Homo sapiens: one gene and its partners. The protein of the gene in region 4 purifies or fractionates together with the protein of the main gene of each other region. This does not show direct contact. Each region holds a gene or a part of one and is shown on either strand. Other genes may lie near its edges.

Evidence for each region.
Region 1: the proteins of DNAAF8 (region 4) and GNPAT purify together in Homo sapiens (affinity purification with mass spectrometry; 2 studies listed by BioGRID and IntAct, with this or other methods). This does not show direct contact.
Region 2: the proteins of DNAAF8 (region 4) and TNIP2 purify together in Homo sapiens (affinity purification with mass spectrometry; 2 studies listed by BioGRID and IntAct, with this or other methods). This does not show direct contact.
Region 3: the proteins of DNAAF8 (region 4) and PKNOX2 purify together in Homo sapiens (affinity purification with mass spectrometry; 2 studies listed by BioGRID and IntAct, with this or other methods). This does not show direct contact.

The regions. Positions count from the first base shown.
Region 1 is NC_000001.11:231,272,191-231,278,610, reverse strand, and holds the end of GNPAT (dihydroxyacetone phosphate acyltransferase), read right to left. Parts: intron 6,300-6,420; coding exon 6,220-6,299; intron 4,690-6,219; coding exon 4,549-4,689; intron 3,391-4,548; coding exon 3,291-3,390; intron 3,207-3,290; coding exon 3,113-3,206; intron 2,477-3,112; coding exon 2,415-2,476; intron 1,113-2,414; coding exon 1,069-1,112; 3' UTR 638-1,068; downstream 1-637. UniProt on the Homo sapiens protein: Dihydroxyacetonephosphate acyltransferase catalyzing the first step in the biosynthesis of plasmalogens, a subset of phospholipids that differ from other glycerolipids by having an alkyl chain attached through a vinyl ether linkage at the sn-1 position of the glycerol backbone, and which unique physical properties have an impact on various aspects of cell signaling and membrane biology.
Region 2 is NC_000004.12:2,753,249-2,760,887, forward strand, and holds the start of TNIP2 (TNFAIP3-interacting protein 2), read right to left. Parts: upstream 3,089-7,639; 5' UTR 3,042-3,088; coding exon 2,766-3,041; exon of another isoform or gene 2,701-2,765; intron 1-2,700. UniProt on the Homo sapiens protein: Inhibits NF-kappa-B activation by blocking the interaction of RIPK1 with its downstream effector NEMO/IKBKG.
Region 3 is NC_000011.10:125,426,733-125,433,890, reverse strand, and holds the end of PKNOX2 (homeobox protein PKNOX2), read right to left. Parts: intron 4,880-7,158; coding exon 4,803-4,879; intron 3,929-4,802; coding exon 3,750-3,928; intron 2,726-3,749; coding exon 2,499-2,725; 3' UTR 502-2,498; downstream 1-501.
Region 4 is NC_000016.10:4,729,727-4,737,583, reverse strand, and holds the start of DNAAF8 (dynein axonemal assembly factor 8), read right to left. Parts: upstream 3,048-7,857; 5' UTR 2,886-3,047; intron 2,627-2,885; exon of another isoform or gene 2,438-2,626; coding exon of another isoform or gene 2,420-2,437; intron 1,121-2,419; coding exon of another isoform or gene 1,070-1,120; coding exon 941-1,069; intron 1-940. Other genes in the region: ANKS3 (ankyrin repeat and SAM domain-containing protein 3), read left to right, coding at 3,613-3,646, 7,433-7,604. UniProt on the Homo sapiens protein: In cyliated cells, dynein axonemal particle-specific protein required for deployment of ODA to the axoneme. Interacts with outer dynein arm (ODA) subunits.

The DNA of each region.
Region 1 (6,420 bases), on a different chromosome or scaffold from region 4:
AGAGAACTTGCTTCTTCTCCGAGTACACCCAGAGGTCATTCTGAGCACACGGTAAGATGGCAGCCACCTACAAGCCCAGAAAGGGGCCTCAAAATGAACCTACTATGCAAGTACCTTGATCTGGGACTTTCAGTCTCCACAAATGTGAGAAAATAGGTCTGTGTTTAAGCTGCCTAAGCTGTGTTTAAGCTGTTGTGTTATGGCACCCTGAAACTGACTAATGCGCCTGCCTCTGTCTTCAATTTCACTATCTGTGACTCTTGTTCCAGCCATGTTGATCTTTTGGGAGCTCTGGAACCTGCCCCAGGACGTCCTGATCACTATTTTCTCCTGGCACACTGCACTCCACTGTCCCTTCCTCCGTCACTCCAACCCTGCCACTCTAGGGGCTGGCTCCTGCTCAATCCAGTTCTCAGCTTACATGTCACTTCCAGAGGTGGCTACTTGCCAAGGTTTCTGGTGTTACCTACTTACTCTAAATTTCTCTTCTCTTGAATTCTTACACATATTTATGGTGCATCACACAGCATCTTTTTGTTGCACATACTTGACTAATTCATTTTTGTTAATTAAGGCCCTAGGGTGGCCAACATTTAAAGTAAGCTAGCTAATTTATTAAATATCTCTTTCAAATTTGTACTTGTTTGAGGCAACTTTAATTAAAGCAAGCTACAAGTAACGTAGATATGCCCTTTTCATTTTCTTTTAATATCCAGAGCTTTCAGTGTTGTCATACTTTAATTCAAAAGTCAACATAAAAGTTTAATACATATAGTAAGCTGAAAAGTGTTAGTGAAATGAGCTGAGCTTTGCTTTTCCAAACATGTTTCCAAAAGTTTATTTTAAAACACACACATAGTGTCAGATACAAACGCCTTTTAACCACTGTGGTGGGGAAGAGTAAACTGATTGCTTCCAATGATCATCTCTTCCCTCTGCGTCCACTGTTCTCAGAGTCTCAGGGAGTATGAGAGGATGTGTCTCTTCCTTTACTTCCCTGTTTGTTGTAATGAGTCCTTCGATGAGAGTAATTACGTGACCGAATTTTCCATAACTATTTGTTGATTATTAAAGTTTTGCAGTGGCTGGTTTTCCTATTGGTGTCTTACAACCTAAGATGAAAAAAGAGAAGCAGCTCATGAAATGATGCTGATTTTGCCCTTCCTCATACAGCTGTTCCTTGGGCGACTGTCCAGGGGAGAAGCTGGAGACTTGTGCAGAGCTTCACAGGCTGGCCAGTACCCATGGGGACGCCAGCCCCCTCCACAAGGGAAGCGGTAGATGCTCCAAGAGGTGACAGCATGGCCAGAGCCACAGGGCCAGGGCCAGGAGTTGAACCCCGTCATGTTTTCTGAACTCCAGTCCAGTATGTTCACGCTCACATCACATCTGCTTTCCGTGATTAAGTAATTGATTCCGTCACCCTCACAGGGCGAGGTGTTTGTGGTTGTTTTAGGTATATGCACCTCTTCAGACACGATATAAATAGAAGACTGGGATTTCGACCTACATATTTTTTTCTACAAGGTCTAGTACTTCCGCCTTCCCGATATGCAACAACTACCCCACTGCCCTTCTACCCTTTTCTTCATCCATTCTCCTTTTCCGTATGCCCCATTCTGGTCTTCCGCAAATCCCAACAGACATTTATCTAAAGCTCTTCCATGCAGGTTTGACGAGGTACTGAATTAAGATTAGGTACAAAAACAGTACTTGGAAGACGATCCACTCAAGGACATCACGCCATTCAATATAATCAGCAGATTATTTTTTCCAAATGTTAACACCCTCCTTTCTAAAATGGCCGCATCATTGCTAGGAAAAGTGTTCTTGACCCCCTCTGATTGTACCTCTGTTTATGTCAACACTCAAGGACTCTTATGTCAAGGAAGACAACACTCAAGGACTCTTTTTGGACTAGACTATTTCTTCATAGCTGATAGGCTCTAGAGAAGAGTAAGGGTTGGATTATTCTCCCAAGGATGTGCTATCAGCCCTAATTCTGAGTTCAGAAAGTCTACATGATAGAGACACTGACACTAATCTCTCACTTGGGAAAGAAGCAATGCAAGACAGACAGTGAGAGCATCAAACAAAGAGTGGAGATGAGGTACTCTCTCTGAGGCAAGGATGTGAAGGGTCTGGGCCTCTGGCTGAGACCAGTCATGTTAGGGACTGACTCTTTCTACTGTGTAAGACTGCTTCTTTTATGCCTGCTGTGTTTTGTTAATTTTCTTTGTGCTTTCTCGTTAGCTTCCTTGAGAAAATTCCAGACTGCATAAGTAATTCCCTTTTATGTTAGAACTCTACTACTTACTGATCATTTTGATAAAGTATTTGGTGCCACAGTATACTTTCTTATTTTAATTCATCAACAAAATGTGAAAACTTGTATTTTATTAAACTGCACTTACCAAGCATTTCTTCTAATTTGGTTGTGGCAGGTTCATTCACATTAAATATACAGTTATTATTTCTAGGAGAAAATAATAAGCTTTATTATTACATAAACTCTGGGGAAAAGACAACTTTTATATTTTGTTCCTGACGTAGCTATTGTAAGACTACTTTTCAATTGCCTTCCTCAAGGCTGGGCCTAAGTAGTCGAAAGGCCTCAGGCTCCTGTCCCACCTCCTGGCTTCTTGCTTCATTCTTCTGACCACATAAGAGACATGACTGCCAGAGTTTACTATTAAGCTTTATCACTGTTAAATTCAACCACTTAGAAGAACATACATCTATATGTTTATATATACATATACAGGTATGTATCTATATATGTATTATGTGTGTATTTATGTGTGTCTACACTCATATGCCCACTACACTCCCGAAAATCTTTCTTGTAATTATAAATTTCAACATTAAGTCAAAGCAAAAATATTGGCCTAAAGTTATTTCTTCCTTTCTTTGCTTCAGTTGCATTTCTATTCATAACCACATACAATTTTCAGGATAACTCACACTGACTTAACTAATTAGAGGATGGATAAGGAAAGTAGAATATAGCATTTCCTAGATCATCCATTTCTATGTCTCTCTGGATTTTGAGCTCAAATGTCATTCATTTCCTTGTTCCTTGAGCACTCATGGGATCTTGTACAGTACTTACATCTTCTTCTTCTCCACTACTCCGAGCCTCACACAGGCTGCTAAGGCGTTTTTCTGCACATCAGAAGATAATACATCATAACATTGAGAGGTACCTAAAATTGGGGGTGAGGAAGAGTTAGTTGACCAGTTTCTATTCTCAACTAAAAGAAATCAGCACCCACAGAGCAGTGACTGACCTTGATCGAGAAGCTGACTTGTGAATTTTCTGACTGCAGCCAAGTACTGTTCCTCACTGAAGTGGTCCTCTTCTTCACTCAAAAGGTACTTGCAAATTATCTGATTTTAAGAGGAAGGATGAGGGGAACAGAAAGAGAAAAAGGATAGCCAAGTTCAACAGAATAGTAAATAACTTTACATTGCCCCTCTTAAGAGAAGGATATATCACAAGAGAGCAGCATAAAGACCCTCCAAGGAATGAGCCCAGAAAAACCAAAGAATTTTTAGGGCATCTCCTTTGAGTTTACATTTTACAATTAGAAAAAGATTTAAAATAATAATGACATTTATTAAAGTATAATTTCTCACTTCAAGGGGTACAAGTTAATTACCATCAGCTTCGTATCTCTTATGCTACTTGGGAAGAGAGGGGTCAGATTTTAATAACTTTGCTTTTTTTCTCTAAATACACCTAAGAAAGTACCATGCCCTAAAATACTTGATGATTTCTACTGTAGAACAGTGATTAAGGGTAGAACTAGCATTTATCAAATGCTCAGTAAGTGCTAGACTTTGTGCAAGGAGGCTGAATGAGTTATTTCACGGACCACAAGCACCAGGAAGTGGGTCCAGGTGCCCAGAGCCAGTGCATGTATTATATGAACAGAGCCGAGTCACAGCATCCTCTTCTCTCAAGCATGTGGAAGTCCTTCCTACAGTTTATGTTTCAGACTCTTTCTCTCCCGTTGAGTCCTGCCACAATTCCTGCTGGGCAACATACCATCCCATCTCTCTAACTACTCCCAAGAGCTCTGACAAACGCTTTCAGAACTTGCACTTGAACTTTTTCTTTCCAACATAAACATCTGGTAATCTGTAACTGACTTTATGTATCACTCAAGTCTTGCCTTTACTGAGTGCCTGATATATATCAAACCTCGAGGTTACATATTGACTGACATGAAGGCCTCATTAAGACATGAGACACAGTATGACAGATGATGCGTGGGTGTAACTGTGGTCCTGTGAATACTGTGACCATGGCATCACTAAGCTGTTGTCCTCTTGGGTCTGTAATGAACCAAGCTTCCTCCTGAATGCGGGGAGCAAGGTCTCACTGGTGAGGTGAAATCACTGATCGTATTAGTCACTCTCTCTCCTTCTTCCATTTGCCTGGGGAAGATACCTGCCCTTCAGACTGGAAATAAGCACAGGGTGAGAATGTCTTATTATATTTGATATGGGGGGCATGAAGGAGAACTTGCCAAATTTACATACCTGATAGCTTTCCACAAAAGGTTTAAAGAGTCCTACTAAAAATTCTAACACAGTATTTCCTTTCTCTGTAACTAGGATGTCTTTCGTAGTCACTTGTATGGCTTCACTTTTACAAAGCAGGTAACAGCCTTCTTCAAAGTCCTAGAAGGGAAGAGGAAGCCATAATGTTCATCTAGGTTAATGGGTATAGTGCCCATCTGAATACATGTACCCCCTCATCTAGGTTAATGGATACACTGCCTATCTGAATATATGCAGCCACATGCCCTCAGACAACAGAATACCAGCTATTTCCCCAACCTCCAGAACAATTCTGGTTGTGAGATAGTAGCCAGAGAAGCATCTGCTCTACATTCAAAATGTTTTCAAACACAACATTTCTGAGCCTTACAAATCACAACCTGGGTGATGGATTTTCTTTTACTTTGCAGAACCACTCCTTAATTTAAATAGGAAATACATACAGCAAGTCCTAAAAATACTTAGAATTATGCTATGGTTAAAAAATTTCTGGCTGGGCGCGGTGGCTCACGCCTGTAATCCCAGCACTTTGAGAGGCTGAGGCGGGCGGATCATGAAGTCAGGAGATCGAGACCATCCTGGCTAACACAGTGAAACCCCGTCTCTACTAAAAATATAAAAAATTAGCCGGGCGTAGTGGTGGGCGCCTGTAGTCCCTGCTACTTGGGAGGCTGAGGCAGGAGAATGGAGTGAACCCGGGAGGCAGAGCTTGCAGTGAGCTGAGATTGCGCCACTGCACTCTAGCCTGAGCGACAGAGCCAGACTCCACCTCAAAAAAAAAAAAAAAAAAAAAGTTTCCAACACTCCTGTTCCACTCCCTACAGAATCAAACCTCTTATCCTTAAAGCACACAAACACCTAACATGCCTCTCATCTACTGTCACTTCCCACTTCAACCCAGCAGCAGTCCAGCTCTGCGAGCCTGATGACCCCTCAGCTGTCTAGACCAGGCAGGACCAGCACTCACTACTCTCAAAGTAAAAGGCACTTGCCTGGGTGACTCATTCTAACAACTTGCTAACAGGAAAATGTGTGCTGATTTTGTTGTGTTTGGTTTCTTTTTTTTTGAGATGGAGTCTTCCTCTTGTCACCAGGCTGGAGTGCAGTGGCACAATCTTGGCTCACAGCAACCTCCACCTCCCGGGTTCAAGTGATTCTCCTGCCTCAGCCTCAGCCTCCTGAGTAGCTGGGACTACAGGCATGCGCCACCACGCCCAGCTAATTTTTGTATTTTTAGTACAGACGGGGTTTCACCATGTTGGCCAGGATGGTCTCGATCTCTTGACCTCGTGATCCGCCTGCCTCGGCCTCCCAAAGTGCTGGGATTACAGGCATGAGCCACTGCGCCCGGCTGTGTGCTGATTTTTAAACGTTTACTAAAATAAAGTTAGTTTAGTTGTAATGGCCACACTGATAGTTCAAAGAATGACTCTCCTCTCACCATATAATCCCTAAGTTATTAATTAAACTTGATCAAGAATCAAACTAGAGTCTGCTGAACTGTGAGCGCCCCAGTTTCTCTTGAAGTCTGCCCCACTTTGCCTTGAAGAAAGGGATGGCACACTGCCTGAGACACATCTGTGAATTCACCCCTAACATTTCTAGAACTCACACTGCAAACATACTTGCTCTTTGTTGTAAGCACTTTACCTTTAGTGTGTTTCCTGGAAGGAAGATGAACTCATCTGCAAAAACATCACGTAGGAAGCGAAAGCAACTGTAGACATCCTCTGGAAATAAATGCATCATGTAAAATTACAACATTGCCCTTTAAACTTTAAGGGAGTACCAGGAAGTCCTTACTATCACAAAATGTATTTCAAAGGCATATTTTATTCATGTAACAGGGAC
Region 2 (7,639 bases), on a different chromosome or scaffold from region 4:
GGCGACACAGCAAGATCCCGTCTCTACAAAAAAAAAATAAAATTAGCCAGGTGTGATGGCACACTCCTGTGGTCCCAGCTATATGGGAGGCTGAGGCAGGAGGATCACGTAAGCCCAGGAGGTTGAGGCCACAGTGAGCCATGTTTGTGCCACTGCACTCCAGCCTGGGTAACAGAGTGAGACCCTGTCTCAAAAAAATAAAAAAATAAAAATCCCAAAACAAAACCTACATGCTTACATGTTGGGAAGACAGGACCAGGGCCAGTAATACTGGGAACACAGAACTAATTCTATCTGAGGCTACCAGGAAGCTGCAATAAGCTGCTTGGTGAGTGGCCAGATACACAGGACACCAGGGAACACATGTGAGCGGAACACCAATGGCCACCGACTGCAAGTATACTGCTCTGGTTGTGAGGTCCCTGCATCCTGTCCCACCAACATTCTGGAGATGACTTCGGAGTGTCCTTCCGGGTCCTTGGTCTGTACTCATCTGTGGCTCCTGGCATCCACAACTCTAAAACCTGTTGGTGCAGACCAGGTGACCTCTAAACTTCCCTTCTGCTCTAGTGAGTCAGGATGTACCTTCCAGAAAGAGGGAGAGAGTGGAGTAGGGGAGACACTGGCTGCTGAAAGTATTTTAAATGATGTAGATACTGACAACCTAATATTAAGTACAACTGTATACACAGCATGAAAACAACCATGCCAAGTGTACACACACCTTATACACAGAGGAAAAACAGGAAGAAGGCATGCCAAGAGATTAACACTAGTCATCCCTGCACTGTGGGACTACAGCGGCTATTTTATTCTTTATTTTTCAGATATTCAAAATTGTTTTATAATTTTTTTTCTTTTTTAAAAAGGGCATGTTTCTTTTTCTCTCTAAAATCAGGCTGTGGGGCCAACCCTGGAGACAAAAACTATCTTTCGCAGACTACTGCCTTTGCAGGCTTAGTTTCTTTCCTGGGCAAACTAGGATAATAGCCATGAATCAAATGGAATAATAGATGCCAGAGCTCACCCGAATGTTTCAGATGCTTGCAAATACTATTGCACAAAAAAACTGTTACTTATACTGCTGTTGTGGTGTTATAGTTTATCATCAAAAAACAGACATAAACATCATAGACAAGGACAAAGAGAAGAAAGTCAGGATTTGCGTCTTTTTTTGTTTGTTTTTGAGACGGAGTCTCGCTCTGTCGCCCAGGCTGGAGTGCAGTGGCACAATCTCGGCTCACTGCAAGCTCCGCCGCCCGGGTTCATGCCATTCTCCTGCCTCCGCCTCCCAAGTAGCTGGGACTACAGGCGCCCGCCACCACGCCCAGCTAATTTTTTGTATTTTTAGTAGAGATGGGTTTTCACCATGTTAGCCAGGATGGTCTCAATCTCCTGACCTCGTGATCCGCCGCCTTGGCCTCCCAAAGTGCTGGGATTACAGGCATGAGCCACCGCGTCCGGACCCTTGTGTCCATTTTTAATTTAATTTTTTCAGACAAGGTCTCACTTTGTCACCCAGGTTGGAGTGCAGTGGTGCGATCTTGGCTCACTGCAACCTCTGCCTCCCAGGCTCAAGTGATCCTCCCACCTAAGTCTCCCTAGTGGCTGGGAGCACGGGCACGTGCCACCATGCCCGGCTAATTTTTTGCACTTTTTGTAGACAGGGTTTCACCATGTTGCTCAGCCTTGTCTCGAACTCCTGGGCTCAGGCAATCTGCCCGCCTTGCCTCCGAAAGTACTGGGATTACAGGCGTGAGCCACTGCACCCAGCCTAGGATTTGTGTCCTTTATCAGACACGGGCTGCATTTGCCATTGCTCCCAGCATAGAGTTGAAGCGCCACTAGTGAAAGACACATGCATGGGTGAGGGCTGGAAGGGACTCTAGAACACAATATGAGTACACGACCTTGGACCCAAGACACACATGTGTGCGTACACACACACACCATACACACCCCTCAGAATGTGTCTCCCGCACACACACCTCAAAACACCCCTAAGAACCAACCGGAACATACACACTACACAATACACACAGAATACACACAGCATACACACACCCCCCTCGGAATGTGTTCCCACACACGAACCTCAAAATACCCCTAAGAGCCCACCTGAACATACACCACACACACACAGAACCCAAGAACTGCACCAACCCCCCTCCTCAGAACCCAGTGCCTCCTCACCATCCCCCAGGACCCAGTGCCCTCCCAACCCCCCAGGATCCAGCATTCGCTTATCCCCTTCAGAACCTTGCACCCTCACCCCGCAGGACCCAGAGCCCCCTCACCTCCACCAGCACCTGGTGACGCCTCAAACCCCCCAGGACCCAGCACACCTCAGCCCGTGGTGTCCCCTTATCCCACTCAGGACCTGGTCCCCCTCTCTCCCCTAGGACCCAGGGTCCCCTCACCCCCCAGAAGCTGTTGCCCTATCACCCCCAGGACCCGACGGCCCCTTACCCCCAGGACCTAGTGTCCCTCAACCCCAGGACCCGGCACCCCCTCAACCCCCAGGACCTGATGCTCCCCCAACCCCTCAGGAGCCGGGGCCCCCTCACCCCCAGGACCCGGCACCCCCTCAACTCCCAGGACCTGGTGCTCCCCCAACCCCTCAGGACCCGAGGCCAACTCAACCCCAGGACCCAGTACCCCCTCAACCCCTCAGGACCCGGGGCCCGCTCGCTCACCCACCCAGGACCCGGCGGCCGCCACACGCACTCTCGCTCCCGCAGCTCCTCTGGTACCCGCCCTCGTACCTGGCGCATCTGGGCCTCGGCGGCGCCGCCCTCCTGCCTTCGCAGCTGCTCCCGGAAGCGCGCAACCTGCTCCAGCAGCGCGTCCACTAGGGACGGCGCGGCGTCCCCCTCCAGCGCGGCCAGGCGGGCGCGGAGGCGAGCGATGAGGGCGTCGCGGGCAGCGAGCTGGTCCTGCAGGCGGCGCAGCCGCTGTCCGGCCTCGTGGTACAGGGTGCAGAGCGCGGCAGCTGCGCGCGGGGCCTCCTCCCAGCCGCCCGACCCCGGGTCCCGGGACATGGCTGTAGGCCCGCCCGGGAGGCCGCGCGGCCGCCGGCAACTTCCGCGCCCGGGCCCCGCCGGCTGCCGCCCTTCCCGGAACTTTCCCCGGTGCGCCCCGCCCACCCACAACAGCCCGGCCCCGCCCTCCCCCACGCAGCCCCGCCCCCCGCGCAGCCCCGCCCTTCCCCGCGCAGCCCCGCCCGACGGCAGCCCGCCCAGCCCCTTCTCGCCCGGCCCCACCCCTCCCACCGCCTACAGCCCGGCCCCGCCCCTGCCGTCCGCACCCGTCCGGGAGAGTTGGCCTGGCCCCCGAGGCTGTCCACACCCCAGCTGGTGCTGGGCTTATTCCAGTGGCCCCAAACATCCGCCTCTGAGGAGTTGTCGGAGAGTCGAACTCAGCCCAGGAGTTTGGGGATTCATCAGCCTCTGATGGAAAGGAAGGGCTTAACGACAACCCCCAAGCTCTGGAGCTAAGTGTGGGTCTGAATCTCCCCGCGAGGGTCCAGGCCTTGCGGCCACAGCAGCAACAGAAGCTCCAGGAGCTGAGCTCGCAGCGCACCAAGCACGTGGCATGTGTTCCGTCACCTGGGGACACTGAGCCCAGAAAGAGCTCCAACCCCCTGCCCCGCACGCCGCTTTCTTTTTTCTTTCCTTTTTTTTCTTCTTTTTGAGACGGAGTTTCGCTCTGTTGCCCAGGCTGGAGTGTAATGGCGCGATCTCGGCTCACTACAACCTCCGCCTCCCAGTTTCAAGCGATTCTCCTGCCTCAGCCTCCTGAGTAGCTGGGATTACAGGCGCCCGCCACCATGCCCTGCTAATTTTTTGGTATTATTAGTAGAGATGGTGTTTCACCATGTTGGCCAGGCTGGTCTTGAACTCCTGACCTCAGGTAGATCCACCGGCCTCAGCCTCCCAAAGTGCTGGGATTACAGGCGTCAGCCACTGCAGACGCTGCTTTGTAAGGTGGCTAGTATGGGCCCACGGGACAACCTTCCTGCTAGATGCTGTTCTTATATAGCAGAAGCAGCAGGAAACCAGCCCCTTCCCACCCTTTCGCTTTTCCATCCCTTTCCTTCCCCAAAATTCCCAGACAAACGCTAGTGTTTTTCCACAGCCCAGTCTTCCCCACAATGATGCCCAAGCACACATGGGGTCTTTCCAAGGTTCCCTACTCAGGATAGGGCAGGGGTCTTCCCTGTGTGTGCACTTGCCCACAGGCTCCGCCCCTGAGCAGCTTCTTGACTTTCTTCCCTTATGTGATCCACAGCCAAGCCTGAGCTGAGCCTGGGAAAACACAAGCTTGTAGAATCAGACAAGCCTATAAGCAAAGCCAGAGCCACCCAAGTGCTTATGGCCCGGACATTGGGCTACACAGGCCTGGCTTTGCTATGGAAGGCTCCTTCTTACTCATCAGAGCCTGGGCTTCCTCTCAGCAGAAGGAAGGGCAGAGCGAGTGCCCACCCTACCTGGTTGGGCTGTTGTGGGGACTAGAGGGTGGAGTGTGCATGGAATGCTTGTCCAGTGCAGTGGCTGCTGCACAGCAAGCCTACAGTCCCCATGGCTATGGTTACAAACAATGCCTATTGATTGTCTGGGGCATGAGTGGAAAAAACAAAACTGGACCCAGAGCTGTTAGAGGCTAATGTGTGGCCTGGGGCACGTCATTCCAGTGACCTACCTTGAGCCTCTGCCTCAACTGTAAAAGGTGCATGTGACAATCCACAGTCTCTCATCCAACAACAGCCTTGGGGTCAGGTGTGGTGTATTGTATTGTATTGTACTGTACTGTATCGTATTGATTTATTTTAGACGGAGTCTCAATCTGTCGCCCAGGCTGGAGTGCAGTGGTGTGATTTTTGGCTCATTGCAACCTCCGCCTCCCAGGTTCAAGTGATTCTCCCACCTCAGCCTCCCAATTAGCTGGGATTACAGGCGCCCGCCACCACGCCTGGCTAATTTTTTGTATTTTAGTAGAGACGGGGTTTCACCATATTGGTCAGGCTGGTCTCGAACTCCCGGCCTCAAGTGATCCGCCTGCCTCGGCCTCCCAAAGTGCTGGGATTGTAGGCGTGAGCCACCACGCCAGGCCGCCATGTGTATTTTAGAAATGAGGATCTTTGGATTTCAAATAGGTACATATAACTGGGGGAGCCAGCTTTCAAAGAGGATCCCCTCCTTCCAATATCCATGCTCCTGTGTAGTCCCCTCCAATCCACTGGAGAGGGCTGACCTGGGTAACTAAGAGGGTACTGCAGAAATGATGGAGTGTGACTTCTGCAGCTAGCTCCCACAAGACATCACGGCTACTGCCTTGCCCTCTTTCGGAGCATTCTCTCTGGGGGAAGCCACCCACCCTATCATCAAGTAACCCTGTGAAGAGGTCCATGTGGCAAGGAACTGAGGCTTCATGGCAGCAGCCGGCGCCCACTTGCCCACTGTGGTGAAGAAGCCACTTTGGGACTGTATCCTCCGACCCTAGTCAAGCCTTCAGAAGACAGTAGCCCCCACTGACATACTGACTGTGACTCCATGGAAGACCCCGGGCCAGGACCGCCCAGCTAAACTGCTCTGAGTCCCTGACCACAGAAACTGGATGAGATAATATATGCTTATTGTTTTAAGCTACTAACATTTGGGATAGTTTGTTCTGCAGCAATGGAAAATGAACAGCTAAAATCTGACTTAGTGCTCCCACTGGGACATGGTACAGCACCACAAAACCAGACAGATTACAATTTCTGCAAAGACAGGGTGACCATTCAGACTGCGAGATGAATGAAGATCAGAAAAAGCCTTGTAGCTGTTGAAGTCAGATTTTGTACCACCTTTAAGAAAAACATTTTGGGGCCAGGTGCAGTGGCTCATGCCTGTAATCCCAGCACTTAGGGAGGCCAAGGCAGGAGGATCTCTTGAGCCCAGAAGTTGGAGCCCAGCCTGGGCAACATAGCAAAACCCCATCTCTACAAAAAGTTAAAAGAAACTAGGTGGGTGTGATGGTGTGTGCCAGTAGTCCCAGATACTCAGGAGGCTGAGATAGGATTGCTTGAGGCAGGGGTTTGAGGCTGCAGTAAATGGTGATTGTGCCACTGCTCTCCAGCCTGGGCCACACAGTGAGACCCTGTCTCTGAGAAAAAAAAGAAAGAAAGAAAACTATTTTGGGTTTCTGAGCTTTTTAGATTTCAGAATTGCGGATGAGGGATCCCAGACCTCCAAGAACACTTGTCTTAGAGGGTGTTGTAAATATTCAGTAAGGTCACATGGGAAGTGCCCAGCATGCTCTTGCCTTCAATGCAAATTTAGGTACTGGGCCAGGCACTGGGGACTCATGTGTGGACATTGTAATAGTGGAGACAGATCCTTTTCCAAAACAAGAATAATTGCAACGTAAGGAAATTTTGTGTAAGGAAAGGAAGGGGAAAATGTGTATAAGAAAACAACAGGCTGGGTGCGGTGGCTCACACCTGTAATCCCAGCACTTTGGGAGACCAAGGCAGGCAGGACTCCTGAGGTCAGGAGTTCGAGACCACTCTGGCCAACATGGTGAAACCCTGTCTCTACTAAAAATACAAAAATTAGCCAGGCATGGTGGCGGGTGCCTGTAACCCCAGCTAGTCGGGAGGCTGAGGCAGGAGAATCGCTTGAACCCGGGAGGCAGAGGTTGCAGTGAGCCAAGATAGCGCCATTGCACTCCATCCTGGGTGACACAGCGAGACTCCCTCTCAAAAAAAAAAAAAAAAAAAAAAAAAAGGAGGAACCTAACTTTAAAGAGGGTGATTAGAGACAAGATAACAGTCCAGCTCTGCAACCTAAAGGGTGAGAAGGAGCCAGGCATGAGAGTTGGCTGAGTGAGTTCACAACTGGGTATGGCCTAGAGTTGGGCAGGAGCTGATACAGGGAGCAATTTCTTTCTTTTCCTTCCCTCCCTCCCTCCCTCCCTCTTTCTTTCCGCATTCTCTTTCTTTGTTTCTTTCGAGACAGCATTTCACTCTGTCACTCAAGCTGGAGTGCAATGCTGCGATCTCAGCTGCAACCTCTGCCTCCTGGGTTCAAGTGATTCTCCTTCCTCAGCCTCCTGAGTAGCTGGGATTACAGGCACGTGCCACCATGCCTGGTTAATTTTTGTATTTTTAGTAGAGATGGGGTTTCACCATGTTGGCCAGGCTGGTATCAAACTCCTGACTTCAAGTGATCTGCCTGCCTTGGCCTCCCAAAATGCTGGGATTACAGGCGTGAGCCACCGCGCCCAGCCAGCATTCACTTTCTGTGTTCTGAAACTCATCTAGATTTGTGCAGGATGGGGCTAGTGCAGCAGGCCTAGTGTGTTCAACCCTGCATGTTCCAAAAAAGGGACTGGCCCTAGACCTTTTGGAATATCCCACCTGATAAGAGTGTCTTTGCTTATGTGGGGGCCTTGGACCACACCAGCTAGTCTAAGCTAACTTGAGGCCTTGGGTCATGAGCTTGAGCTCTGAAGGAGCTGGAGACCGAGTAACTCAGGTCAGCCATATGGGCACTCCCCGCCTATGTGATCAACCCCTAACCACAGCTCTGGACACAAAGTCTCAGGTGAGCTTCCCAGTTTGGCAACACTCCCAGTACTGTTGGGAGAGCGATAT
Region 3 (7,158 bases), on a different chromosome or scaffold from region 4:
TCTCAGCAAGTGTGGCTAAAGAAGGTACCCTCTCGTCTGGAGCTGACAAGAAGGCCTGCCTCTCACTTCTGTGTGGAGATCAGCTGCCTGAGTTTCTTCTTGCCTGGGGGATTATGGTGCTGATCCCTGGGATTCAAGGCCGGGAATGGAGACAGGAAAGCAAAAGCCTTTGAGGGAGGTGGAGTATGGTGGACAAGAGGGACCAGATTCATAGCTTCCGCTGCGGTCGGGGAAGCTGTCAGGAGAGGGCAGTGCAGAGCTTCCTTGCCTTCTCTCCCTAGCTCTGCCTTACAACCGGCCGCACACAAGGTGAGTGTGCTGAAATTGGCTCTTCCTCCCCAGACAGGGCAGCTGAGCTCACGCAGGACGCACATCTACCTTGTCCCCTTCCCTGGGTAGTCAGGTGTATACTGAGGCCTCCAAATTTTGTCTGGCCTCTGGTCCCATGAAAAGAGCAAAGGATTGCCACAGCAACCACAGAAAGAGAATTGTGCACCAGGGTTACGGTAGGTAATAAGATTTACTGAAAACGTCTCGGCCACATTCAGTACTGGTTTGGTGGATACATCAGAAGGAGGTTGCATAACATTAGGCAGGTGGAGGGGCTGAGAGGAAGAGATGTGGGCACCTGTGTGCCAGTGTGTCCGTGCTGGGGGACGCCTGTCCAGGTGGTGAGTGGAACGGTGTGTGTGTGTGTCTGTGTGCGCGTGTTAACAAGAAAAACGAACCAGAAAAGGAAATGCATTTTATCCCACTGCACATTGCAAAAGTCTCACGCCAAAAAAGCTAGACTTTCCTCTATGTATGGCATCAAAAGGGAGTAAAAAATGATTGGATCACCCAGATTATAAATAAGGTTATTTGTTTCTCAAAAATCCTTATTAAAACATTAAATATCAGCTCTTTTGGGGGAGAAATACATTCATTTCAGGGAGACCTCGGAAGAGTGACCATCCTTTTGCTCTACCCCAACCAGGTGGGGGAGGGGAAGCCCCAGAGGGCCCAAGGGGTCCCCTCCAGTTGAGCCAGGTAGCCACTCACATCCTGCCACTGAAGGAGGTGGCCAATGCACAATTTACAAATGAAACTGCACGTCCATTAAATTAAACCCAATGGAAAACACACGTGTGACCTGTCCTGTCATTCACAGCCATGGGGTGAGAGGGAACCGGAGGAGAGGGTGCCAACCAAGGGGGTCTGGAAGGTGGGTGGGAGGGTATGTGTTAGGGTGGACAGTGGAGAGCCTCCTCCTCCTTCCAGGAGCCCCAGTTCCTCCAGGGCTGTGGATAGCAGGGTTAGAACAGCTGGGTGGGGTGTGTGGGATGGGCATCCCCGCAGGCTCTTGGGTGCCATTCTCTGGGCCCTCCCCCACATTTAGGATATTGATGGGAAGAGGGATGTAGCACCTTCTCCAACCCCTGGCTTCCCACTGGACTAGATGCTTTCCAATGTTTCTTCTGCCTTCCCTGAAGGACAGAATGAAGAAAGGAAGCTGGAGGCTGATGGAGCCAGGCTGGGAGCAAAGGGATGGCCGTGGCGACCTGCGGGCTGGAAAGATTCCCAGATAACCTGGTTTCACCTTCTCTGAAGGTCTATGGAGGGCGTGGAGCACTGAAGGTGGGAACATCTAGGGTAAAAAACCATTGTCCTGTTGTTAAAGGAGCTAAGTTCTGTGATCACCTAGGGACAGCTGTGGCCTCAAAGTCACCTCCATATGGTTCCTAGCCCAGGGTCTGCCATCTCCTTGGCTCTTGGAGTCAACCCAGAAGGGACTCCTCTTAACCTCCCACAGGTTGAGCCCACCAGCTTACAGTTGGTTTCCAGGAGAGAGTGAAGGGCACTGTGGCTCCCATCCCTTTCTCCCATGTCCATGGTTGCTGTGCGCAGAGACAGGGCCTTGGAGGGATGAGCTGGAGCCTGGTGGATTCCATCCCATTCTGATCTGCAAGATGTGATGCCTCAGGCCCTCCCACTCCTCTGGCCACTGGTTATGCTTTGGGGCTCCCTCCTGCCCTTGAATGTCTGTCAAAGGAGCTGAGAAACTTCTGGGGATGAAACTCAGTCCCCCTTTGTCTCTCCCCTTCCTTCTAAGTCTGCCCCCGGGCAAAGGCCTACTCTGCGAACAGCACCAATCTGCCTCAGTGCAGGGCTTGTAAACAACTCAAGTCCTTCCGTGGGTGGGGGCCATGGGTGCCATCTATCCTCAGGGATTTGGTGAGTCCAGATCTCACTCCTGTCTTTCCACACAGGCTGCTCGACTGGCCCCGCCAAACAGAGTCCTCGGCAGTTCCAGGGAAGTGGGGCTGGGGTCCTCATTGAAGCTCGGTGGTTGGGAAGGAACAGGTGTCTCCTTTGCCTTTCTTCAAGCTACTGATTTGGGGAAGCTAGGGCCCAACTCCCTCGGTGCTTCCTGCCCATGTCCCCTTCCCCCCCACCCTGAAGGCCTCCCGGCGACACTCCTCTCCTGCTCAGTGATCAGTGCCATCTGGGCTGCCCGACTACTCCAGGGAGTCACTGTGTTCCAAGCCCAGGTCGCTGACATTTGTCGTCTGCAGCTCGTCGACCTCCTCCTCCAGCTCCTCCTCCTCCTCCTCTTCCATCTCATCCTCATCCTCTTCTTCTGTCCCATCCAATGAGTCATCGTGTGCAGCCATCATAGCCTGCTGCATGGCCATGGTGGCACTGTCTGAGGACAGGGACTGCAGGTTGTCCAAGTTGATGGAACCTGCGAGAGAAAGCAAGGGTCAGGACGAGGCAGGGGCTGCTGGTCAGGGCCAGCACCTCTGTGTTGGACAGGGTTTAATGGACTGGCTCATAGAGCAGTGAACTCCTTGTTTTTAGAGCTGTCCAAGCCTGAGCTGGACAATGCCCTGGTATGAAGTCTCCCATCCATTCACTAGTCAGCTACTCCCTGCCCCATCTCAGGAAGCAGCACTCCCAGCCACCGTTCACTGCACATTTTCTTTATGTGTTGGCCACTTTTGACTTTCTAACAATTCTGTAAGGCAGGTATTATTATCCCCATTCTGTCTCAGACAGTTAAGTCATTAGCTCAAGATGACATTGTCAGCGATGACAGAGTTGGAATTTTCTCCCAGGCTGGTCCAGCCCCCTAAATCTGTTTTTTTTTTTCCCATCATAACCCATAAGATGGCTCATCACAAAGGAACCTGTGCACAACCATACACATACACGTGTGCATGAGGTTATGTGTGCACACACGCACACCTACGCTCCACTCCCCATACAGAGCTATCTTCATATGCCAAGCTATAAAATGCTTGGCTCATTGAATTATTCATTGTGCACTAGGCGACTGGCAATTAGAAAAGTGTATATGGAGGGTGTGATGGAGAGGCTGGGAAAACAGAGCTCTTCCTGGCCCCTGTTCACGAGCCAGCTGCCTGCCTTGATATTTATAGATGGCCTTGGCTCCTGAAGAGCTGTGCAGATACTTACTGGTGCTAAGGAACTCAGATGGGTGCGGACATGGGGGGCTCTGCTGAGCAGTCACTGACTTGCGTGACCACCAACTCCCGCTTTTCTTTATGAGAGTGCATCTGGTCTGTTAAATTATGTACAAAAACATCCCCTTCTTTAGGGCTTTGGGGAGGGATAATCACTGTGGCATGGCAGCGATGGGAGCCCAGGTAAGGAGATAGCCCTTGAATCTTTGCACGGCTTGACCTGAAGAAGCTCCAGGAGCACCCCCAGCCCTTGTCTAGGGTGCACTCAGCCCCAGTTCTTACCATCGGGGTTTGTCCCTGGGGCACCGCCCTGCTGCTGCAGCACCCCCGCAGCGATGGAGTTGGGCCAGAATCTTTGGGTGGGCCGGTGCTGAGACTTGATCTTCTTGGCTTTGGGGGCAGGATCTGGGTTGCTGGCATCAAGCATGGGCTGCAGGATGCGCCTCCGGGCATTGATGAACCTGCCCAGAGGTAAAGTGGAGACCTGGTTAGTCATCACCTGCATGGCCTTGGGGTGGGGGCAGGGAGGGTGAAGCTGCCTTCAGACTCCATTTCACAGAGCAGACCGGGGTTCCCATCCCGGATGTAAAAGCCCAGCAAGGAGGAGGGCCCTGGGTGCTGAGAAGTTCATGAAATTTCCTGGGGCTTGGTAACTGCAAAGTCATATGGGAAGAATGCATGGGGGGTCAGAAATCCCTGCTCAAGACCTTCCAGGTTGAACGGAGGAGGAGAGCATGGTAGTCATAGGCACTAACCTCTGACTTCTCTCCAGAGAGCCAAGGGCTCGGATCAGGGCCCTCAGCTCTGGGGTCTACTTCCATCCAGCCAGACCTTGCTCTCTGAGCTCCCCTGACAGCCCAGCCAGGCACAGAGACTGGGAAAGCTGAGATCCCTGTGGGGTCAGAATGGCTACTCCTCCTCCCTCTCCCCACTCCCAGCTTTGCAGCTAGTTTTAGTCTCAGTTCACATGGGGGTGGGGAAGACCAGATGACCACTGGCCTCCGGTGCACAGCTGCGGGCAATCCTGTCTGTCTCTGAAGTGCAGGTGGGCTGGGTGCTCAGGTGGGCGTGGGTTTTCTCTTCCTCAAGAAGCTTCCAGGGATGTGCCTGACACAATGTCCCAGCAGAGGGCGCTGAGAAGCTGCAGATGAAGCCACAGGTGCCAGTGTTGATTCTTGCTTTCTGCTTCTAGCCTAAATGGGGGGACTGGCATGGTAGCTGGGCTGAGATTGAGGCAGATCCTGGCATTCGAGTCTCTTTTCCCTGCTACGCATTCCCCTGCCCAGAAGGTGGCCCCTGGATCTGGGAGCCTGCATGCAGGTGATGCAAACTCACCAGTTGTTTACTTGCAGGAGGGTGAGGTTGGTCTGGGCTGCGATCTGCCTCTTCTCATCCTCCGTGGGGTAGGGGTGCTGAAACGAGAGGTGGAGACTAGTGAGGGCTGGGCATATGCTGATCTGGCCCCCCCAAGGGACTGTGCCCACGCCATGGGCACTATCCTGAGCCAGGCAGCCCGAGTGGTTTGGGAACCAAAATTGGGGAAGTGTCATGTTTGCTCCCCACAGAGAATGGACCTAGGGCTTGGAGGAAGGTTGCCCCATGCCCGAGACTCCACATCCCGGGCTGGCCAGTCCTCAGCCAAGCCCCCACAATGGGGAGCCAGGGAGGTTTCCCAAGACCAAGATGGTTCAGTACTGACAGCTTCCAAGGCACATCCTTCTCACTTGATCCTCACTGCCGCCCCCAGCAGGCAGGGCAGGCATTGTCAGTGTTAGGGTTTCCAATGGCCTCAAACGCCCATAGAAGGTGGTAGGCGGGGTGAATGGATCAATTTAAGTTAACTGCTATTTACTGAATATCTACTATGTGCCCAGATTTATGCTAGGCATGGCTAGGAGACAGAAGAGTACTACTTGTATAGTGCTTTATAACCTGTAAAATGCTTTCATGCATTTTATTCATTAAAAAATCATCATTTTATTTAATAAAGCACATCATTGAAACTCTGAAAGGCAGGCAGGTTAGGTATTGTTATTCCCACTTTGCAGATGAAGAGATGGAATGACTCCTCCAGTGTCCCCCAGATGGTAGCACCAGCTCAGGTCTTCCGATTTGGGTCCAGTCTTTCTTCCATTGCTTCATGATGCCACTTTATAGGACTGAGTGGAGGTGAGAAAGAGAGCAGGGCAGGTGTCTCTCTCAGTCCCCCACATGCTGCAGCCCGTGCACTGACTACGCATCTGTCTCCCTCTCTCAGACTGTGCTTCATGACGGCACTGGGATACTGAATGTATCCCCAGTGCCTTCCACATACAAATGACATACAAATGCCTGCTGAGTGAAGGAAAGCAAAAGCACAGCACTCAATGCTGTGGTTTGGGTGATGAGCCCTGTAGAGGCTAAGAAGGAGAGAAATGCAGTGGTGGGGAAGACTGAACAGGTCACATTAAAGAATGAGAAGGCTCTGGGTGGCAGTGGGAAGAGAGTCGTGACCCCATTGGGAGGGAGGCCACAGGATGGCTGAGTCTATGCATCCCTAGGACTTGTTCAGGCCACAGCCCTGTGCCTGGCACCCAGCATGCAATTAAGGTGTGGCGAACGTCTGAATAAGTCAGAGTTTTGTCCTGGAAGCTAGGGGAGGTTTGGGGGCTCTTATGGCAGAAGATCAAGCCATCCAGCATCCTCAGGCTAAAATCATTCCTTTTGATTGGAGTGGTATTAGAAAGTGGTGCTTGAGCTGTCTAAGGTCCCCGAGATGGGAGGTCTCAAAATCTGGCTCTATTATGACTAGCTATGAAATCTCAGGCACGTCACCTAACTACACATCAGCAAGTCATCTGACAAATAAATGAAATTATACTTGTAAAATGCTCAATAAAAGGTACGAATACTCTTATTATCAGGGGGTGTTACAAGGTGCTTAGAACTTTCTGAGGGAAAAGGCTGCGGTCAGCAGCCTTGGTGGTACTCGCATTATCGGTGGAAAAGGAGGAGCAGCCTCTCCCCTACCTCAGCATCCCCCAGATGAAGCCATCAGGACCATGTGTTGCTTTAATTCAAACCTCTGACCCTGACCACCATGCCAAGGCAGCTGGGACTTGTGATTCATACGGTATTAAGATTCTAACAAGAAAGTAGGCACATCAGCATTACAGGAGCCAATTTTCATTCTAATTGGGAAGGAGCGGAGGCAGGATGGGAGGAGAGGGTGCAGATGGCCCCAGGGGGCAGAGAGGCAAGGACTCTGGGAGCTCTGACACCTTCTGGGGTCAAGCCCTAGTGCCTGGCTCCAACCTCCCTATTTGTGGGAAAGAGCCAAGCAGCCTCCCTGTCCATAGCCAGCTGGTCTGTAGACAAAAAGCAGCAAAAATATGGTGATTTTTTGGCCTTCCCAGGTGCAAGGGCCTTTCATGCCTCCATGCCTTCGCACGTGCTGGCCCTCCTCTGGAGCGCGCTTCCTCCTGCCTGTCCTCGCGTGCCTTTCTGAGCTTCTGTGAGGGCCTGCCACAGATCACAGCCTCTGCAAGGCCCTTCCCGACTCCCTGAGGCAAAGCTGGTCACCGTGGCCTCTGAATGATTGCTTTTCGCCCACTAGATGGCAAGACATGTGTCCCCCACTAGGCCATGAGCTTCTCTCAGGCAGGGACCCCATCTCATTAGACATTGTTTATTTCCAGTGTGCAGACCAGGC
Region 4 (7,857 bases):
CTTGGCAGCACAACCTCGTGGAGGTGAGACTGGGGCTCCTGGTTCTGCAAGTACCTCGCATACAGCAGGTGCTTCATTAATGCCTCGTGACATGAACAGGGCAGTGAGGTGGTAGCTGAAAGAGCAGGGTCCAGCCCTCCCCATCCCCTGTGACCCTGAGCCATCACTTACACAGCTTAGTTTGTCTTCTTGAAGGGGTTGGGGCTCATACTCTCAAATGAGACTGAAGGTGTGAAAACACCCTGAGCACTGAGGCGTGGGGTCCCCTTAGGTTCTCCTTAGCCTCGTCATGCACTGGATGACGTCTGAGGTCCCTGAAGCTCTGTTGCTGGTGCCCAGGTAGGACCCAAACCCTGCCCGTTCCTTTTAAAACCCTCATACTGTCTCTTAACGCCCAGTGCCAACCTGTGCACTGAGCAGCCCCCGCCAGGAGCATCTTTAGCAGGGTCTTATGCCTGCACCTAGGGCTATTGGTCTGAGCGTCTTTGAGAGCCATTTCAGGGACCCCAAACCACAAATGCAGAATCCCTCGAAGGCTTATCACAATGCACTGGAATTGTGCATTCTCAGTGGGTGTTCTGGCCCTGTCCTGGCACGAGAGAGTGGAGAATAGCAGAATGGAAAGGACAGAGCTTCTGCATCAAATTGACCTGGGTTCCAAGTCAGCACCAAAAACTCCACTGAAAGGGTCTCCCAAGATGCTGAGCACCAATACCCATGCTCAGAGATGACAATCAAGGCAGAAGAAAGAGTAAAGAAGGAAATAGGCACCCAGAAAACACAACTTTGAGTCTGGCCATGCGATTTAAAGTAAAATGACAACAAACTGCACAGGTCAGCAGGAAAAGTCTTCAGAGAAGTGCTCCAAAGCTGTCCTGGCCAGCGTCATGCCTGCTCTGGTAGGAAGGACAAGGCATCCAGGGAGAGAGTTCTTGCTTACCAAAGGGGAGTCTGAGTCCAGAGACGGGAGCTGGTCTTTGACAGCCTTGAGGATGGCATCCCAGGGCCCCATCTGGGAGGCCCAGGGAGAGCCCAGCGAGGGTGCCATGCCTTTATCGTTGGATGCCATGAGGGCCCAGGCTTCCAGATGCCTTCTCAGTGCACCATAATCCGGGGAGCTCTGTGGGGTACACAGGGTGATGGAAGAGGGTCCGGGCCACTGAAGGTCAGGAGAGCAGGGGCTGCTCTACCAGCTGTAGGAGACCAAACAGGCTGGCAGGCCTCACCACCTGCCTCAGTTTCCTTCTAGTTATGCAAGCTCCTGTTAGTGCCAGGCACTGTGTGTGTACGTGTGTGTGTGTGTTCCCACTCATGCACACATGTGGAGCCTGCAGGTATATAATGTATATAGTGATATATACATAATAATATACAAATATATGTATTGATATAAATATACCTATGTAGATATATGTACATGTTATATAGAATGCCATATGTACGATATATAATGATATATAGGTATATTTTATATATACCCCATATAGCATAACTATTCTCTTCATTTCATAGGCTCAGGGTGTTTAGTAAATAGCAACAGTGGACTCTGAATCAGGGGGAATTTCAAGTCCTACTACCCTTTACTGCCCTTTACCAAGGAACAGAAGACACCTTGCTTTTTTGTTTTGGAGACAGGGTCTGGCTTTGTCGCCCAGGCTAGAGTGCAGTGGTACAATGATAGCTCACTGAAGCCTCGGCCTCCTGAGCTCAAGTGATCCTCCCACCTCAGCCTCCTGAATAACTGGGACTACAGGTGTGTACCACCACATCTGGCTAACATTTTTATTTTTTGTAGAGATGGAGTCTCCCTGTTGCCCAGGCTGGTCTCAAACTCCTGGCCTCAAGTGATCCTCTTGCCTCAGCCTCCCAAAGTGCTGGGATTACAGGCATGTGCCATCGCGCCTGGCTGACAGTTTGGAGTCACTAAGTGATTTTTTTTTTTTTTTGGAGTCACTACTCTGACCAGCCCCTGCATTTATATCTTAGAGTCTTAAAGGAGATGGTCCTGTTATTCAGGGGGCTGGGGAGCTTGAGCTTGAGAGCTGGGGGGTGAGGGTCCTCTAGAGCCAGTGTCAGGAGAACTCTGCAGCTCGAGAGGCCGCTGTGGCTTTGGCCCTGCAGTCAGTGCCCGTTCATCCCCAATCAGGGCAGCGGCAGGAGATGTGAATTGGGGGCTGCTTGCTTCCTCTGTACTTCTGGGAATAGGGCAGGTGCTTGGTGCACTCTGAACTGGGAGCAGCGGGTTGGGGACGCATCTGGTGCACACAGCCAGCGGGTGTTTTTTGTAACTAGAGCTCTGTTCCGCAATTCAGGGCACAGTATTTCTTAGGGCAACAGAATCGTCGGGATGAAGAGGGCCTCCAGAGACTCTGATAAACCCTTCAGGCGGACAAGACAATAGGGGAGGGAACGGCATTACCGGCAGAAGGAAGAGCATGTACAGTAGCTCAAAGGAATGAACCGCCCAACAGGTTTAAGGGAAGAAAGTGTCAGTTGCTGGACTCTCCGGTGAAAACGGACCAGACAATGCAGGGCCCTGAACGCCAAGTTGAGGAGCTCAGAGCATCCAGAAGGCGAAGGGGAGGCTCGGAGCCGCCTCTGAATAACGGCCTTCCGGCTCCGTCTCGGGGTGGGTTTCTCAGCTGCAGCCTGTTAGCCCCGCCACAGCCCCGCCCCGGTTCTCAGAGCCCCGCCCCCAGCCGGCCTGCCACGAGGCTGCCGGTTGTTATGGCAACCAGACGCCAACAGCCTCCCGGGTCGAGCTTTTAAATTTTAAAGCTGTGGAAGTGGAAAGCCCATCGCTCCTCCTCTCACCCACCCCCAGCCCGTATTTCCCCGCGTTTTGTTCAACTCCCTGCAGGCGCAGCAGGCCCGAGGCCCCTCACCTCAGGCCTCTGCCTCCACTCCCCGCGCTGTCCTGACAGCGCTATAAACAGCCTCCAGCGCGTCACTCCGCTCGCGTCCGCCCCTCGGGCCGCGCCGCAGGTACAGAGGCTGTCCCCTTCTTCAGCACTCTCCCTCTCAGCGGAGCTTTACATTACTAGACTGCCTCCGCCTTCCCCCCACCCCGCCCAGCTCCTCTTTCGGGCCTTTGCGCGTCCTGCCTCTCCTGCAATGGGATTGGTTCCCCTGGAGGGCGGGGACGGAGCAGGACAAACACCACTAGCTCATTGGCTACCGCGGGCATCAGACAGCGAGCCGGGAAGCTGACCGGAAGGTCCGGGTGCGGGACGTGTGCATTCCACGGCGCCCGGGAGCTGTCCCGGTGCCGACCCGCGAGCTTCCCGGCGTGCTCCGCGCCCTCCCGCAACTACTTCCGGGGCGGGTGCCGGGGGCGGTGCCCCGGCGAGGGAGCGTGGCGGCGAGCTGTTTGGGGGGGGTTGGCGACGGCAGCCCGAGGGCGGCGCAAGGCCTGAGGCCCAGCACAGGTGGGTTCCGCGGCGGCCCGGCCCCAGCACTTGCCGGCACCTGCAGCCCGCCTAGACCCGGCGCTCGGGCGTCCCGCGCTGCACTTGCTCGCCGCGTGACTGGAGGACCGAGCCCCCACATTTTCTTTATGTGGTTGTGGTGGGGGCACAGTAATGCCCTGTGCGCCGTAGCGTTCCTGTGGGGATGTGGCCGGGGGGCGTCGGGAAGCGTCACTGCTGTGAGTTACGGGTTTGTCGGCCAGGGACCCGCCCCGGGGCCAGTGAGCTACCTTTGCGATGCGGTTCCACGGGGCGAGAGGGGGTGCCTGGGTGCTTTCACAGACCTCCTCTGTGGGCGTGACAGTTACCACCAGCATCACATTTGTTAAGATTTTTAAAAATTTTTTAATTTTTGTGGGTACGTAGTAGGTGTATATATTTATGGCGTATATGAGAGATTTTGATACAGGCATGCAGTTCGTAATAATCACATGTAAAATGGGGGTCTCCATCCCTTCAAGCATTTATCCTTTGTGTTACAAACAATATGATTATACTCTTTGAATTATTTTTAAATGTGCAGCCGGGCGCGGTGGCTCACTCACGCCTGTAATCCTAGCACTTTGGGAGGCAAAGGCGGGCGGATCACCTGAAGTCAAGGATTTGAGACCAGCCTGGCCAACATGGGGACACTTCGTCTCTACTAAACATACGAAAACTAGGCTGGCATGGTGGCTCATACCTGTAATCTCAGCTACTCGGGAAGCTGAGGCAGGAGAATCGCTTGAACCCAGGAGGCGGAGGTTGCATTGAGCCGAGATCACGCCGCTGCACTCTAGCCTGGGTAACAGAGTGAGATTATGTCTCAAAAAAAATAATAATAAATAAATAAAATGTGCAATTAGATTATATTGACTATAGTCACCCTGTTGTGCGGTCAAATACTAGATCTTTTTTTTTTTTTTTTTTTTTTTGAGACGGAGTCTCGCTTTGTCGCCCAGGCTGGAGTGCAGTGGCTTGATCAAATACTAGATCTTATTCATTCTGTTTTTTTTGTATCCATTAAGCATCCCCACCCTCCACTACCCTTCCCAGCCTTGGTTACACTAGAAGTAACCATCCTTCTACTTTCTATGTCCATGAGTTCAGTTGTTTTGATTTTTAGATAACCACAAATAATTGAGAACATGCAATATTTATCTTTCTGTGCCTGGCTTATTTCACTAAACATAACGATCTCCGCTTCCATCCATGTTTTTGCAAATGATAGGATCTCATTCTTTTTTTATGGCTGAATAGTACTCCATTGTGTCTAAGTACCACATTTTCTTTAGGATTCACTGTAAAGGTAACAGATACTTAGCATTTTCAGAATGGACAGAACCAAAAAGTTGAATGAAAACTAAAACGTCTTATCTCTAATGCTACTTTACACCACACCACTCGGGATGGGACATTTTAGTTTTCACTTTAGTGTTTTTTTTTTGTTTTTTTTTTTGAGACAGAATTTCGCTCTGTTGCCCAGGCTGGAGTGCAGTGGCTTGAGCTCGGCTCACTGCAATCGCCTCCCAGGCTCAAGCGATTCTCTTGCCTCAGCCTCCTGAGTACTGAGACTACAGGCGCCCACCACCACACCCAGCTAATTTTTGTAATTTTAGTAAAGATGGGAGTTCACCATTTTGGCCAGGGTGGTCTCGAACTCCTGGCCTCAAGTGGTCCGTCACGCTTGGTCTGGTTCTCATTGTCCTTCAGACCTCTGGGGATGTCAGATATGCAAGTCTCCAGTAAATAGAGAACACGGCCTCACCCTGCAGGAGGCCTTTGGCGTGGAAGAGACATGCCCAGTGAAGGCTTGAGGGAGGTATGGAAGGGACTCTGAACTGACCCTCAGCTCGTTTGGTTTCTTATCCAGGCTTCGTTGGCCAGGGCTGTTAGGGTGGGATTCTCACCTGCAAAGTGAGGGAAGGGCACTGCACGATCTTGGGCTCTGCTAGCTGAAGAGGTGGTGGCTCCAGGAAGGAGGGCTTTGCTTGCCCCACCGCACCTACACACACTCTTCACCAAGGGTCTGTGAAGTGTTCGTCTCCCACATTGGTGGCTTGTTTCTTTAGCCATCTTGGCTGTCACCTGGGGCTTGGAAGCATTCTTTAATAGAAACTGAGGTCCTCATCGCATCTATTAACTACCATAGCACCTGTAGGTCATCACAACCTGACAAGGCCTTTGTTTTCGCCTTTGCTCCCTTTCCTACCCTTGTTTCCTGGCACTCTTGTACCTAAGGATTCTACTAGGAAGCTGATGACCTTGCCTTGATTTGGGGATTCCTGGTGTGCCGTTACCCATGTAGGCCCATCTCGGGGAAAGTGTTACCTCACCAGTTCACCGGCCTGTTATATTTCCCCCCATAGCTCTCTCTTCAAAGGATGCCTAAGTGGATTCCTATTCAGTTGACGGTTGCTGCGTGCCACCAGTCACATCCTGGTTTGTCTGTTGGGGAATTGCTTTCTATTTTTTTCAGAAAAATTTATTTTTACTTTTTTGAAATTTTCAATTTCATAACCATTCCAGAAAAATTAATTTATATTTAAAATTTACAGGCCAGGTGCAGTGGCTCACGCCTATATTTCCAGGACTTTGAGAGGCTGAGGCGGGCGGATCACCTGAGGTGAGGAGTTCGAGACCAGCCTGGCCAACATGGTGAAACCCCCGTCTCTACTAAAAATACAAAAATTAGCCTAACATGATGGCGCACACCTGTAATCTCAGCTATTCAGGTGGCTGAGGCTCAAGAAGCCCTTAAACCCAGGAGGCAGAGGTTCCAGTGAGCTGAAATCATGCCACTGCACTCCAGCCTGGGCAACAGAGCGAGACTGTCTCAAAAAAATAAATAAAATTTACATACAGTAAAATTCATTTTGGTGTTCAGTTCTGTGGTTTCATAAAGGCATGGAGTCACAGATCCACCGTCACAGTCATACAGGTCTATCGTCCCCCAAATTCCCTCTCTGCCCCAACCTCCAACCCTTTAATTTTGCCTTTTCCAGAATGTCATGTAAGTGAAATTATACTGTAGGCAGGCTTCTTCCATTTAGCGTAAATCATTTGAAATTCATTCACGTGTTGCATGTCAACTGTTGGATCCTTGTGTTTAATGCTGAGTAGCATCCATTATATGGATGTGCCACCGTTTGTTTATCCATTCTTTTATGTATCATAATAGCAGCCTTTTTAGATATGTCCCCGTTAGACAGTGAGGCACTAGGGATTGGAGTTGCTAAGTAGCAGAGCTGCTTTTTTGTTGTTTTTTTTTTTTGTTTTGTTTTTGGAGACAAAGTCTTGCTCTGTTTCCCAGGCTGGAGTGCAATGGCGTGATCTTGGCTCACCGCAACCTCCGCCTCCTCAGTTCAAGTGATGCTCCTACCTCAGCCTCCCGAGTAGCTGGCCTTCATGCCCAGCTAATTTTTGTATTTTTAGTAGAGACAGGATTTCACCATGTTGGCCAGGCTGGTCTTGAACTCTTGACCTCAAGTGATCTGCCCACCTTGGCCTCCCAAAGTGCTGGGATTACAGGTGTGAGCCACCGCACCGGGTCCAAGCTGAATTTTGATCAAACCCCAAATCCAGGGTTCTTCCCCACCACATCAAGGAACTGATTGGGTTAAACAACCCAATTAGCATTTCTTCACTGCCCATCCAAGAGGTTGTCAGGTTCCTAGAGTTGGTGGAGAATTCTCTTTTACCTGGTGCCTGCGGTTGGAAGGAGGAGCAGGTACTCCACAGTTAATGCCTCACCATATGTGCTCCTCTTTACTGGTGTGATAGCAGGCTCACCAGATTTAGCATGGTTGGGACTGCCCAAAGCATACATTATTTCAGCAAATAAATTTGTCTGAGTTACTCCCGGGGTTGACTGCACTGGGTTATCAGTCTGCTAGTGCAGTGGTGTAGCAGGGGCAGGACCAGCCTGTTTCATGCCCTGGAACAACCAGCCAGGAAAGATCTAACCCTTGGGCCTTCCTCCTCAGTGATGTCCGAGCTCAGCGATGAAGCCAGCGAGCCGGAACTCCTGAACCGCAGCTTGTCCATGTGGCACGGGCTCGGGACACAGGTCAGCGGGGAGGAGCTGGATGTCCCCCTGGATCTTCACACAGCTGCTTCCATTGGCCAGTATGAAGTGGTGAAGGAGTGTGTGCAGCGGTAAGAGATCTCGGGGAACTTCCTCTCACATTTTGAGCAGCGCAGTGATGGCTTCGATCCCACGTGATGGGGCTTTGCACACAGTTGTGGATGTTTAATGCGTGTAGAATAGGTTAACCTGCTTATCTCAGGCAGCTGTCAGTAAGTATTGATGCTGAGCCCTGACAAAGAGGCCGTTTTTATTCCTAGGAAGAAAAAGAGGGAGTAAACTTTGATCAGAAGCTTATAAACAGTCATTCTTTAACCAGACTAA